Linked DNA regions of Homo sapiens: region 1 is linked to region 2. The links come from fine-mapping of genetic effects on gene expression. A gene starts in region 2. The other region holds a variant in brackets. All regions are shown on one strand. Distances are from middle to middle.

The links.
Region 1: its variant is fine-mapped to the expression of HEATR5B in whole blood (INTERVAL, PIP above 0.99).

The regions. Positions count from the first base shown.
Region 1 is chr2:37,062,689-37,065,610 of GRCh38, reverse strand. HEATR5B (HEAT repeat containing 5B) reads left to right here. Exons shown (of 36, transcript NM_019024.3): 10 at 621-871. Among named protein-coding and RNA genes, the nearest start is that of HEATR5B, 20 kb to the left of the region's middle. The variant C/T (reference allele first, on the strand shown) is at 1,434.
Region 2 is chr2:37,082,725-37,085,646 of GRCh38, reverse strand. It overlaps HEATR5B (HEAT repeat containing 5B), which reads left to right and starts at 1,275. Exons shown (of 36, transcript NM_019024.3): 1 at 1,275-1,378; 2 at 2,211-2,358. The coding sequence starts at 2,233. GPATCH11 (G-patch domain containing 11) reads right to left here and starts at 1,129. Exons shown (of 9, transcript NM_174931.4): 1 at 1,077-1,129. RefSeq lists enhancers at 1,038-1,197, 1,668-1,767.

The DNA.
Region 1 (2,922 bases), 20 kb after region 2:
TAGGCTGGGCGTGGTGGCTCGTGCCTATAATCCTAGCACTTTGGGAGGCCCTGGTGGGCAGGTCACTTGAGATCGGGAGTTCAAGACCATCCTGGTCAACATGGTGAAAGTCTGTCTCTACTAAAAATACAGAAATTAGCCAGCTGTGGTGACACGTGCCTGTAATCTACTTGGGAGGCTGAGGCAGGAGAATTGCTTAAGCCCAGGAGGCATAGGTTGCAGTGAGCCGAAATCATGCCACTGCATTCCAGCCTGGGGGACAAAGTGAGTCTCAAAAAAAAAAAAAGTTTCCTTGTAAAGAATATTGAATTAAATGGTTAAATAAAGTTTTGGAACAGAAATCAAAAGCAATTGTGGTAGTTTTTTTATAAAAATTGACTAAAATTTGTTGAAGACTTCTATTAAATTTTACATCAATATTGAATATAATTGTACTATGTTCTTCATAGAAAATGTTCCTTTGAAGTACTCTACTGTATGTAGTTTTAGGCAAAGTTGTGGATCTATATGTGTGAAAGCTTGGTGATTGTCATTTCAGTTATTGTTTTTTAGATAGTATTTGAGTTTCTGAAATCATTTGACTTCATTAAAGAGTAATATTTTGAGTATTTCTTGTTTAGGGCTTTTGGAGATTGTGACTTCAGTGCTGCTTCATCCAAGCATGGCTGCCCGACTTGCTGCTGCATGGTGTTTGCGCTGTGTGGCTGTGGCATTACCTTTCCAGCTGACACCATTTCTAGACAGGTGTGCAGAACGGCTCAACAACTTGAAGACCTCACCAGAAGCTGTCAGTGGATATAGTTTTGCAATGGCTGCTTTGTTAGGTGGAGTACATCAGTGTCCTTTGGGCATTCCTCATGCCAAAGGAAAGGTATGACGGAGATCCTAGACTTGGGAATGCTGTCACGTGGGCTTTGGTCTTTATAGGAACGCTGCTGTGTTTAGTGTTGAACAGGGTGGTCAAATAACAGTTGTACTATGTTATCATAAAACATAGTGTTCTTACTATGGTGTTAACAGACCCTATTATAATTTGATATTTAATTCTGATGTAAGGATAATAGATTTTGTCCAAGTCTAGTAACATGTTATAATTTATTTTAGAGGGAAAGAGAAAAAAAACAGCCTAGGCAACATAGTGAGACCCCATCATTACAAAAAATAAAAAAAGTTAGCCAACTTCATGGTCCTAGCTACTGGGGAGGATGGGTTGGAAGGATCACTTGAGCCCAGGAGTTTGAGGTTACAGTGAGCTATGAACATGCCACTGTCCTTCAGCCTGGGTGACAGACCAAGACCTACCCTGTCTCAAAAAAAAAAAAAAAAAAAAACCCAACCTTAGATATAGTAATTATTTGAAAGTCAGAGCTTTTCTTTCAGCTTTTAGAAATAAAAGTTCACATTGCTATATATTCAAAGATGTCAGGATAATA[C/T]GCTATTGTAATATTTAGCATTTTGATAATGTTTAGTAAAAATTGAGTGGTTTTAATAAATCATGGCCGGGCATGATGGCTCATACCTGTAATCCCAGCACTTTGAGAGGCCGAGGCAGGTGGATCATTTGAGATCAGGAGTTTGACACCAGCCTGGTTAACATGGTGAAACCTTGTCTCTACTAAAAATACAGAAAAATTAGCCGGGCATTGTGGCCCATGCCTGTAATCCCAGCTACTTGGGAGGCTGAGGCAGGAGAATCACTTGAACCCAGGAGGCGGAGGTTGCAGTGAGCTGAGGTTGCACCACTGCATTCCAGCCTGGGTGACAGAGAAAGACTCCGTCTCAAAAAATAAAATAAAATAAAAAATATGAGTAGCTTTTTTTTCTCCTTTCTTTCTGTTGTATACTACTATCATGGTTTTCTTCTCAGTAATCTTAAGTGTTTATATAAATATTATTTGAAACTTTACATAGGCAGATTGGGGCTAGAGTTTTAAATTTTGATTTTTTTTCTGGGACATTAAGCCCATGTCCATTCATAGCAGTTGCATAGCTACCGATGAAATCCAGACTTCCCTCTCACTTTGTCATATCGTTGCTTCCTCATTCTCATCTTCCTCAGACTTTCCATCTTCCCCACACGTCCCATCTTCCTCATACCACTTTCATATTTTACATTTGCCCAGAGACCCTTAGGGACTACCCAGTACTCAGAGAGTAAAATATAATCTCCTTTGTCTGGTAAACTGGTATCTTATAATTTGACTTCATTCCGCCGTTCATTCAAATTTCCTGTTGCTCTAATTAGACTAGTTATCTTCCTTCCTTCCCTGGCCTTTTTCAGCTTCGAAGCCTTTGCTCTGCTAACCTCTTAGAGTTTCATCTCCCCTCTTATTCAGCTGCACCAAATTTAAGTCTATACTAGCCATTCTGTGTGGATGTTAATACAGCAAAGTACCGAGAACAGTGCTAGCCCATGTGACCACTAAATAAATGCTGTCATTATTAGCACTATTATTCCACATTCAAAGATTTGTTGAACTCCTATTATGCATCTACCATTGAGCTAACCTTGCCTGGGCGTGGTGGCTCAGACCTGTAATCCCAATGCCTAGGGAGGCCGAGGCTGGAGGATCACTTTAGGTCAGAAGTTTGAGACCAACCTGGGAAACATAGTGAGACCCTGTCATACAAAAAATAAAAAATGAAATTTTTAAAATTTTCCAAGTATGTTGGCATACACTTGTAGTCCTACCTACTCAGGAGGCTGAGGTAGGAGGATCCCTTGAGCCCAGGAATTCCAGGTTACACCGAGCTATGATTGTGCCACTGCACCCCAGCCTGGGTGACAGAGTGAAACCCTGTCTCTAAAAAACAAACAAATAAGTAAGCTAATCTTTTGGAGCTTACAGTCTTAGAAGACACAGGAAAAATGAGAAGTGGATTTGTCACATGATGAAATGACAAAGTAGTAGCATAGATGCT
Region 2 (2,922 bases):
GTTGCAACTCTCTTTTGGTTCTAAGAATAGTCACTATTCTGTTTTTTATGGCAATCATTTCCTTCATTTTCTCGATAGTTTTGTCATCCACGTGTGCATCTTTAAACATTACAGTTTAGTTTACCTATTTTTATTATAAGTTAAAAACGTGCACTATTATATACAGCATTTATGGTAATTCACCCGCTTCCTCTAAACCTCAGATTCTTCATTGGTAATAACAGCATTTTTACACATAATGGTTTAACACTTACCCAGTATATCACACATTTTTATCACATTTAACCACCACTAACAACTCTACAAGGTAGGAAGAGTTTTTCCTGTTGGAGAAATTAAGGTTCAGTATGGCTAAATGACTATTTCAAAACCACAAAGAATCCGGGTCATAGTGCCTTGCAAATAGGATTACATTGTTTTTAAGAGACCTACTTAACTTTAAAGTGCCAGGCACATCTGAATGGGGTTACAGGTTGCTTTTAAAGCTCTCTTTCTATTGGTAAAATATACTTTAGCATTATCCATTTCCATCAAAGATAAGCATAAACTTCACAAGGCGATACCCTGGCAGAGATGATGGAGGCTCGTACCAGAGTGATAGCAATGCAAGTGGTCGCATTTGGGGTACACTTGAAGGTAGAGCTTACAGGATTTGCTGATGTTGTAGGTAGTACGTAAAGAACGATGTCAAGATAACGCTAAGTTTTTGGCCTGAATACATGGAAGAACGGAGTTAACGTTTTTTGAGAGTGGGAAGACTGTAGGAGTAGGTTTGTTTTTGTTTTTTTAGGGGGCGTAGTCGGGAAACAGACATATTGAGAGTCCCATTACATATACAAGTGGAGAAATGGACCTACAGTATAAATGTGACAAGAAACGTCCCACTCTCAATACTACGCTCAGGAACCGCTGATCCCTTCCCTCACGCGTTCCTCCTGGCTGCAAGCGTCCCACAGACGCAACCACCCACGGATGGAAAAGTGGCTGACGGTGTGATACGGTAGTCATGGCCAGCGCACTCTGCCTTTTATCATTCTACCGGTTGTCCCCAGACCCTTACCTGACAGCTCTCTTACCTGACAGCTCTCTGCTCGCCCCGGTTCAGCGCCGTAGAGCGCGCGCTGCGCATGCGCCCACCGACCAGCGTCGGACTTCCGGACCTCGGCTCCCACCAGTTTCCTAGTGCAGACTCTATTGGAAATTCGCGGCGGGTGGGGATAGGAGGACGTGGTGACTGCGCTTGCGCAAGACCAGCCCTCCGCGCAAGCGCTCTTCCCTTGTTTCCTGCAGGTAGGAGTGCGGGAGGTGGGGCATCCGGGTCTCTTGGTGGCTGCTTCTACCCCCGGAGCTCAGCTGATCTTCCCTTCCAGACTACGAGGTGAGGTCGCCGAAGCATGCATGTTGACACGCACGGACTCCTGTCCGACGTACATTTTCAGACGGGTGGGGAAGACATTTGAGTTCGTAATGAACATTTTCCCTTTTCTGGCTCCGTGCTTAGTTCCGAGCTGCCGCCTCGTGCTATTGACAGCCTGCGGAACCCCACGGAGGCTTGCGGCGGCCTCTTGGTGTTTCCCCGGGTCCGCCGCTTGCGGTTCTTGGAGTAGCCAGGTGAAGCCAGACCCCGAGCGCGCGAGGCTTCTCGGGTGCATTCCGGACCGCCTGGTGTTGTCACTGACGCTTCGGCCGCCGGGCCTGGCCGCCCCACCCATCCGCGTAGGAAGAGTCTTGGAGACCTGCAGTTCGGGATGTCTGTGCTGGGTGTTTTGACCTCAGTCCCTCTGGCCAGGTGCAGCGCGGGAGGGTAAAGGTGCTATGTACCGAACCCTGGACGAGAAAAAGAGGAGGATGGTTGTCAAGCCCGGCTGGGGTGTTTGATCTTAGTGCTTCAGTTTTTTCATTTATAGAACGGGTAAATGACATATGTGTTGCTGGACATATTTCTTCTGGAATAATGCCTTTTTTGGCAATAATTTCTTTTAATTTTCTTTTCACTCCATGAGTCACTCTTCCTTACCAAGTAGTTTTCTTCTGTTTTTGTTTGTATTTTTGTCATTTAAAAGTATGTTCTCAGGTTTTGCCTCAAAGAAGTTGAGTTTTTCCCCAAATGAAATGAGTAGTCCTACTTTTCTTAGTGAGTATATTCCATTAAGCTTGACTTTTAACATTAAAAAATACTTACAAGTATTTTTTACTCTGTTAAATTTAAGGTGTGAATTTCAAACTTCCGTAATGGAGTTAGCCCACAGTTTATTGCTAAATGAAGAAGCTTTGGCTCAAATCACCGAAGCAAAAAGACCAGTTTTCATCTTTGAATGGTTGCGATTTCTTGATAAAGTCTTGGTTGCTGCCAACAAGGTATGGTATTGCTCTTTTTTCCCAGTTGCATTAACGTGAAGAGATTATGTGGTCATGATTCTTAAGAAAACACATGTTATGTTTTGGAAGGTTTATGGGTCACTTATGGAACTTGAGAGTATTACACGAATGGGAAATTTAGTGGCAAAACTCAAACCTCGTTTAAATCCAGCTCATTGCCTATCTTCTTTATGTTTGTACCTGGGCAGCTCATTGTAACTGGAGAAAAACATGGCTATATGACTGGTGTCACTTTAAATTTATCATCGTCACCCGTTGCAAGTGATCTCTCTATGCTGCCTAACAATCCCAGTGTCTTCACTTATCTCTTTGAGGAGTCAATAATAGGCTCTTTTTTTTTTTTAATCTGTTTTTTCTTCCTGCATAGCCTTGATTTGCCGAGACCAGCTCGTTTGGGGAGACCCTAACCTAGCGGCGCTAGAGGAATTAAAGACACACACAGAAATATAGAGGTGTAAAGTGGGAAATCAGGGGTCTCACAGGCTTCAGAGCTGAGACCCCGGAACAGAGATTTACTCAAGTGTCTATTAACAGCAAGCCAGC